2 linked regions of the Homo sapiens genome follow. The protein of the gene in region 1 binds, or shares a complex with, the protein of each later gene. Each region holds a gene or a part of one and is shown in the gene's direction. Other genes may lie near its edges.

Region 1 (3,600 bases):
ATGTGAGTCCATTAAACTGCTTTCCTTTATAAATTACCCAGTCTCAGGTATGTCTTTATTAGCAGTGTGAGAACAGACAAATACAGATAAATTGTGGCTGTGCATAGCTTCTCTTCCTCTGGGGTTCAGGAACATTTTTTTCCTTACTCCCTAGTTGGAGCCACTTTGGCTCTATTAATGACTTACCCCAAGAAAACCTCACAGCAAGGACTCAACAGTGATGAGGGAGCTATACTAAAACAATATCCCCCAGATAGCCCAATGGGAGAGAGATTTGTATGGGCATGGGTTTAGTCAGAGCCCAAAACTTGTTGTGTCTTCTCTGGAAGAACCTCCCAGACCTCCCCAGCTAAACTCATAACCACATCCCTTTCCTAGTTTATCTTCTGTGTCCATTTACTGCACTGAAACTTCCTATTCCAAGTCAACGTTTCACCTCCAGATTGACATCCAAGCTGAAATCTGCTAACAGGGTCAGAAAACAGTTCATAAAGGAAAGTAAGCAAAAATGTTGAACCCATTCCAGCTTAATAAAAAAAAAAAAAGCCCACAATAACAAAATCTAAGGTTCTGTGTGCTTTCCTACCAATATAAAACACAGCTTTCTCCCAGAAACTCAACCATTTTCCATAATCATGATCTTCTATTAACAACTCACATCTTTCCAAGTAGGCACATTCTCTCTGTTCTCTTATGTCAAAAGTACATAACATGGTGCAGTGATCCAACTATGGGCTGGCTTCTCTGCAAACTGTCAACATTTCTCTCCCTGCCTTCCCTTTGTTCCTAAGAGCAGTTGTGGATTGGTATAGACCCAAAATGGAAGTTGAAATATGCATTGCATCATTTGTCACATTAGCTACAAAGGAAGCAGCAGAAGTAATCAGAAATGAGGAGCAGGAAATTTCCGATAAACAACTCTGATGGTTATCTGGAAGCTGAATTGAATCACAGGCACAAGAACTTGGAATTGCATTTTGAATTGCAGAATTAGAGGTAACTGCCTCCCACCTATATGATAGTGTCAATTAATCAAAAATTGAATATAGTTTTACAGGCTTAGCATTCCATTCCATTCTGCGACATGTCAGAGAGCATTTATTTATTTAACAGGCTGACATGAAGCACATTTGGATTTGGAAAAAGAAATAATTAAAAAGAACCACCCTGGGTGGCCCAGATGTGGATACTATTATGGATGTTGATAGTATTTGGAGGTGAAATGAACGAGTTTTTTTTTACAGACTCAATATTGACCAATGAAAACATGTAACTAATGAATTTAGCCCTGTAGTCAAGCAGTTTAAGCCTTTTTCAACATAGATTAGGAAGTTAGAATGGATGCCTCTCATTGAGTTTGCATTCAGTAGAATAAGTAAAGCTTGTTTAACTCATGCATCTCTCACTGGCCGCCTCTCTCTTTAATTTGGGAATAGAAAAGGGAGTCCACAATTAATTTTAGATTGTGAGAAGAGAGACAAAAAAAGGAGCAGAGAGTTTCTGAGATAACCTAAAATCTTTGCCGCACCCCTTACTAACCCCGGTTTGTGCCCCTTCACTATGGGAGTAGCTCTTGTCATCATCTAAAAAACTTGAACTGCATTTTGAGAGATTTATTGGCCTTGCTTCTGCAGGCTCATAACTCCTTTATGTGCTTGCTCTTGGGAGGAAAAAGCAGATAGACGTTTAAAAGCTGGATGTTCCTGCACACCCCTCTCCTGATGCTTCATTCTTTTCCAGGCAGAAAGATGGTGGGACTCTGTCTCTAGCAAAGGGATATTTCCAGATACTGAGGTGTTGTCAGAGACACCTGGTCAGGGAGGTTAGGAGAAGGGGCATCCAGGTCCACCCCCTCCAACTGGCTGCTGCTTTCCTGGCAGGGCTGCACTGGGACACCTCACTTCCTTCCCACTTCCCCTTCCTCCTCCCATTCGCTGTCTCTTTGCACACCCCTAATATGGCCTTTCATAGTAAGAGGTCAATATGTTTTCACACTTGGGAAATCTCATTCAAGAATTTTTGTCAATGGACAAGTCATAAGAAGCCCTTCCATTTTAGGGCTCGTTGACGTCACCAAGAGGCGATAAATATCTGTTGATATAATTGGATGTGAGATTCAGTGTTGAGATAGCAAAATTCTGCCCCTCGTTCCTTGGCAGGGCCCTATGATTTATGCAGGAGCAGAGGCAGCACGCAATCGAGCTGTCAAGAGAGCGTCAGCTTATTAGGCAAATGCTGCGTGGTTTTTGAAGAGGGTCGACACTATAAAATCCCACTCCAGGCTCTGGAGTGGAGAAACTCAGAGACCAAGTCCATTGAGAGACTGAGGGGAAAGAGAGGAGAGAAAGAAAAAGAGAGTGGGAACAGTAAAGAGAAAGGAAGACAACCTCCAGAGAAAGCCCCCGGAGACGTCTCTCTGCAGAGAGGCGGCAGCACCCGGCTCACCTGCGAAGCGCCTGGGAAGGTAGGGAGCGCCTGGACGGAACACGCCACCAACTTTGCGTTGCCTGAGCTGCCGCGATGTGCGCCGCGGAGCCGGCTGCCCCTGCCTGTGTACGTGTGTATGCATGTGTGTGCGTGCGTGTGTGTGTGTGTATGCATGTGTGTATGCGTATGTGTGTGTGTGTATGCGCGCGTGCGTGCGTGTGTGTGTGCGCGCGTGTTCGCGGACTATTCCTTAAGATTACAATAGTAGCTGGGATGTGGCAAAAGCAAACTTAGACGGCTGCTCTTCGTTACCCGTGCTGCCAGTTGCTCCTTGCTGGCTGTGTAAAGGAGCTCCCCCACCCCCTTCTATCCTAACCCCCGAGATAAGGCAGCAAGGGCAGAAGTGGAGAGGGAGGACCATGAGGCAGTAGTTCTCAATTTGGAAGAAAATGCTGAAATATCCGGAAGGGAGGTAGTCAGCGCGGGTGGGATCTTAAATCTGTGGCTCTTCTCTAGGATCGGGAAAATTAGTTTTGAGGATCGTTAGGAAGAGGACGCAGGGACCGTCCTTTCAGAGTCTAGAAAGAAGGGTCACTCCTGGCCGGTGAGCGCATGAGCTTAGGTGCGGAGCCCTGCAGGCGCCCCCTTTCCCCGCTCCCCAGGCGCTTCAGCACCGCGGACAGCGCCCATCCGAATCACTGAGGCCAAAGCCCAGCACGTCTAAGGCAGTCCCGTAGGAAGACCCCGTGTGCACCTCCCAGCTGAGCGAACTCTAACCAACTCTTTCTTTCTCTCTTCCCCTCTCTCATTCCGCCCTCCGCCCACCTCTGTGCCGCAGCGAGTGCCCCTAACATGCGGCTGCCGCTGCTTGTGTCCGCGGGAGTCCTGCTGGTGGCTCTCCTGCCCTGCCCGCCATGCAGGGCGCTCCTGAGCCGCGGGCCGGTCCCGGGAGCTCGGCAGGCGCCGCAGCACCCTCAGCCCTTGGATTTCTTCCAGCCGCCGCCGCAGTCCGAGCAGCCCCAGCAGCCGCAGGCTCGGCCGGTCCTGCTCCGCATGGGAGAGGAGTACTTCCTCCGCCTGGGGAACCTCAACAAGAGCCCGGCCGCTCCCCTTTCGCCCGCCTCCTCGCTCCTCGCCGGAGGCAGCGGCAGCCGCCCTTCGCCGGAACAGGCG
Region 2 (4,114 bases), on another chromosome or scaffold:
TTGGGGAGGAGATGGCAGGCAGCCCCAGCCAGGGCTTGGCAGCTGCTAAGGCCTCGGCCCAGGCCTGAAGAGGCTGCCCCCACACGCGCTGGTTCATGGTTCCTGGCCCTCCGTGGCTTGTCTGTCCACTCTTGTGCCAATTCTAGGTTATTAACCTGGGGACACTGGGGCTCAAAAGGACTGGTGTGCCAGCCTCACTCAGAGGGAGGCACTAAAAGGCAGAGAAAGAAGGGGCAGCCTCAGGGGGGTGCCAGGACTGTGCCAGCCCCCACCCTTTGGAGGCCATATCCACCCTCCCCTCCTGAAGTGTCACTGGGCCTCAACTCTGCCCCAACATCCTCTCTCTCTCGCGTGCTCTCTCTCTCTCCTCCAAAAAGCAAATATTTGGAAGGGGACTTTGACATCTTCTTTCTAGTTCAGATGTTTATATCTCTTTGAGTCACAGACCCCTTTGAGAATCTAATGAAAGCCGTGGGCCCATTTCCCCATTAAAATGCATGTATACACCAATATTTTCATTACATTCAGGGTCTCTGTGAACTGTTGAAGTTTCCAGTGGGCTGAGATTAAGAATTTCTGATCTGGTTCAACCACTTGATTTTATTATAGATGAAGACAAGACACTAAGGCCCAGAGAGGGCAAGTGACTTGCCTATGATCTCACAGCAAATTAGTGGCACAGCCCATTCTGAAGCAGTGGGCCCAGACTCCCAGTTCAGTGTGTCCTTTCCACTCCCCCAGATGGTGTCTCCCTCCCTTTCCTCTCCATAGCTCACTTCTCCATCAGTCCTGTCCTAGGGCCCTGCACAGAACAAAGTACACGTGACGTATGGTCAGTAAGTGTGGTTAACAGGCCAGCCGGAAGAAGGAACAGGCCAGCCGGAAGGAGGGCCAACTTCATTTAGCTGATTCTTCCCTGCAGGGCCAGGGTAGATGTGGTTTGATTGCAGAGACGTGAGGGGCTAGGTCAATGATTGGATGGGTCTGTTCCAGGGTGTTCCTGTGATGTCTCAGAGCTCCAGGCTGTCACCATGCGAGGGACCAAGAGAAGTGTCCTTAGGCTACAGAGCAGGGGACCAGAAGCATGCCCAGGCTTCCTCTAAATGCCAGGACCTTAGCTTTTAACACCACCTCCAGCCATCTCTCTTCCTCCTCTGCTCTGGAACCCATGCTGGCTCCCTAGTACCATAGCATCAGATTCAGATTTCTTCCCCTTGTGTCTTCTTTGCATAGGATGAGCTCATTTCTGCACTGGTCATTGTTGTCATCCTGTCCCTAGCTGGTGTGAGTGGGAACGAGTGGGGAGGTGGGCAGAACTCTGGAATGTCCTCTGCCTGCCTGGGGCCTTGGCCGGATATCTTGCTGTGCCTTACCAGCCGTCTCTGCCCCCAGGACTGCAGTGCAACGCATCCGTGGACCTCATTGGCACCTGCTGGCCCCGCAGCCCTGCGGGGCAGCTAGTGGTTCGGCCCTGCCCTGCCTTTTTCTATGGTGTCCGCTACAATACCACAAGTAAGGAAGAAGTGGAGGGTGGACCATCTGCTGGGAGGTGGGACAGGATGGGGAGAGCTTGGAGGTGGGGGAAGGAAGAATGACGATGACAATAACAGTAATACCTCTTGTGGGGATCGCCCCTGTTTTCCAAAGGTCAGCGCTGTATTCTCCTGGGTGCCCTGTGCTCATTACTCGTGATTCTCACAATACCCTTGCAAGACACTATCACGCCTCCTATAACTAAGGCCCCTGGGGCTCAGGGAGGTTAGGGAACTTGCCCCATTGGCAGCTGGTAAGGGGTGAAGCTGGAATTTGCATCCACGTCTGTCTGGCACTTTCTTCTGCCATTAAACTTCAGGTTAGTCTGTTTGAGCCTACTGTAATACCATGAAGCAGGGCAGGAATCATCAGAGCCCCAGCTGTGTGGATAAGAACCTTGAGTCGAGAGGTTCTGAGGCCTACCCCGGGCCCTCCAGCCAGGAGGCAGGGGACCCAGAGTTTCAGATGCACAGGCACAGGCTCAACTTGCATCCTGGATTTGTAGGTGGAGTGGGGCAGGACGGGGTTGACCCAGGGTCCGTCGGATACTTGATCCTCATGTAAACACCTGGCTCCCCGGAGGCCCGAAACCCCCAGAGCCGGGCTTTGCAGCTCCCTGCTATTCCGCCTGCCACTCTCAGAATTAATTTGCTCTCCCCTGTCAATGAGTCAGGTCCCTGCTTATCAAGAGAGCAACAGCTGTGGGCCAGGAGCCCTAACCTACCTGAGGGGAGGCTGGGGGCCTGATCCCTGCAATTGGGGCCTCCTGTGTGCACCCTTGGGTCCTTGTGGTCTTGAACTCAGAGTCCCAAGAGGGCACAGGGGTGAGCCCAGACACCATGTAGTTTACTCCAAGACTCACTGTGTGACCTCCCAGCACATTGTTGCCCCTCATCTGGCCCTCAGCCCCTCATCTGAGGATGGAGAGGGCTGGATGGCTTGGCTTCTAAGATGTCTTCCAGCTCAAAACTCCCAGATTCCTTCTCCTGCCCCTCTTTCCTCTACCAGATGGATTTGGGGTGTTAAGGTTGGGGGCTACAGCAGAGGAGTAGGAAGACCCAGCCAGAAAGTGACTCCCCAGGGAGTGACTTGGGAGGCCAGGGCAGGGCAGGAGGCTGGGGCAGCCAGATCTAGCAGCCTCGTGTGTCTGTACCATGTCCTGGCCATGGGAGGGACTCGGGAGAGGGAGAAGACACACTGGGAGGGGCTTGGGGGCCAAGGGGAGGAAGTGCAGAAAGGAAGAAGGGCCTCTTGGCCAGGTCAGTCCAAGGGGTGCACAGTTGGCCAGCCCCCAATATAGTCAGGCCCATTTTGTAATAAGGAAATTGAGGCACAGAGAGGCTAATAACCTATCGGAGGTCGCAGAGCCTGGAGGCAGGGTCACAGCCCAGGGACGATAACTCTCACGATGCTGGGGGCTGAGTCCTTCTGGAGCCCCTAGGAAGGAGGCAGCATCTGCACATCAGAGGAGCTTCCAGGAGGAGGCACCAGTTCCTGTCATGTCCACTTCCAGAGTGATCCTCGTGTCTGGGCCTACCTGCCCCCACTCCCCAGCGCCACCGCCCAGCCTCAGGTTTCAGATCTGAGTTGGTCACTCCTTCACTTGGAACCCACTCTTGTGTGGCCTCCGTGTTCAGGCTGCTGGGTGGGGCCGGCCAGGCTGTCTGTGGTCATGGCCCTGTCACCTTTTGCAGCCAGCCCTGGCCACCCCCCATGAGTTCCCTCTGCTCCCGTTGCAAAGGGTTACTTGACATGCTCCAGATAAACATTTTCAGCCCTCAGTGCCTGGGCACACACTTCACTTGCTGGCCCTGCCTGAAGTGGCAGTCAGGAGTCCTAAGTTCTCATTCCAGCTGCATCTGCAGCTGGTTAAGTAGCCCTTGGCACAGACCTTCTGTGGGCCTCAGTTTCTACACCTGCAGAATGGGTGGGAGGATTGAGTGTGGTGCTCTCTAGGCTCCCCCGCACTTCCCTCTGTGATCCCAGGAAAGGAGCTGGGGTGATGGCCTCTCGACATGGGGTCAGTCTGTGAGGGCAGGGCTGGAAGACCCCTTTCCAGGTGCCTCCAGCGCCAGATGAGGTGGAGCACGCCCGTGCAGTCAGTCACAAGTGGGTACCCAGAGCTGCACCTCATCATTAAGCACTAATTAATCCATTTACTGATGAGTTGCTGCCAGGACTTCTAGGCCTTCTCCCTAATGCCCTCCCTCCTGCTGCATCTGATCTTCAAAGGGATGGGAAGCATTTCCAAAAATATCTATTTTCCCGTGATTCTTTGGGAGGACTGCTCAGCTCAGCAATTAAAGACAAGGAGGTCGCATCCTCCCTGGCAACGGCTCCCTGCTTGTTGGGCCTGCTTTCTTTCGGATCACCTCCTTTCTCCCCATCAAAGCCTGCTCCCTCTGGGTGACCCAGCCTCTGATGGGACTCCTGACTCTCCCCCACATGTCAAGGGGGGCAAGGGTGTTGAGCAAAGGGGCTCCTCCCACAATATCCACCGGTACCCTTTGATGGGGACAAGGGACACGCTCTGAGTCTCACGTAAGGTTATATAAATACAGCTCCAAGACAATAATAATAA

The links.
Region 2: the proteins of CRH (region 1) and CRHR1 are in contact, whole or in part, in a cryo-EM structure (PDB 6P9X), measured with the Homo sapiens proteins. Residues at the interface, in NP_000747.1 of Homo sapiens: Glu156, Pro157, Pro158, Ile159, Ser160, Leu161, Asp162, Leu163, Thr164, Phe165, His166, Leu167, Leu168, Arg169, Glu170, Leu172, Met174, Arg176; in NP_004373.2 of Homo sapiens: Lys113, Tyr116, His117, Ala119, Val120, Asn123, Trp169, Val172, Gln173, Met176, Ser177, Pro178, His181, Thr192, Tyr195, Asn196, His199, Phe203, Phe260, Gly261, Lys262, Tyr267, Tyr272, Gln273, Met276, Ile277, Leu280, Tyr327, Phe330, Phe331.

The regions. Positions count from the first base shown.
Region 1 is NC_000008.11:66,177,157-66,180,756, reverse strand, and holds the start of CRH (corticoliberin preproprotein), read left to right. Parts: upstream 1-2,292; 5' UTR 2,293-2,464; intron 2,465-3,265; 5' UTR 3,266-3,279; coding exon 3,280-3,600. UniProt on the Homo sapiens protein: Hormone regulating the release of corticotropin from pituitary gland. Induces NLRP6 in intestinal epithelial cells, hence may influence gut microbiota profile.
Region 2 is NC_000017.11:45,815,071-45,819,184, forward strand, and holds part of CRHR1 (corticotropin-releasing factor receptor 1 isoform 2 precursor), read left to right. Parts: intron 1-1,392; coding exon 1,393-1,512; intron 1,513-4,114. Other genes in the region: LINC02210-CRHR1 (CRHR1-IT1-CRHR1 protein), read left to right, coding at 1,489-1,512.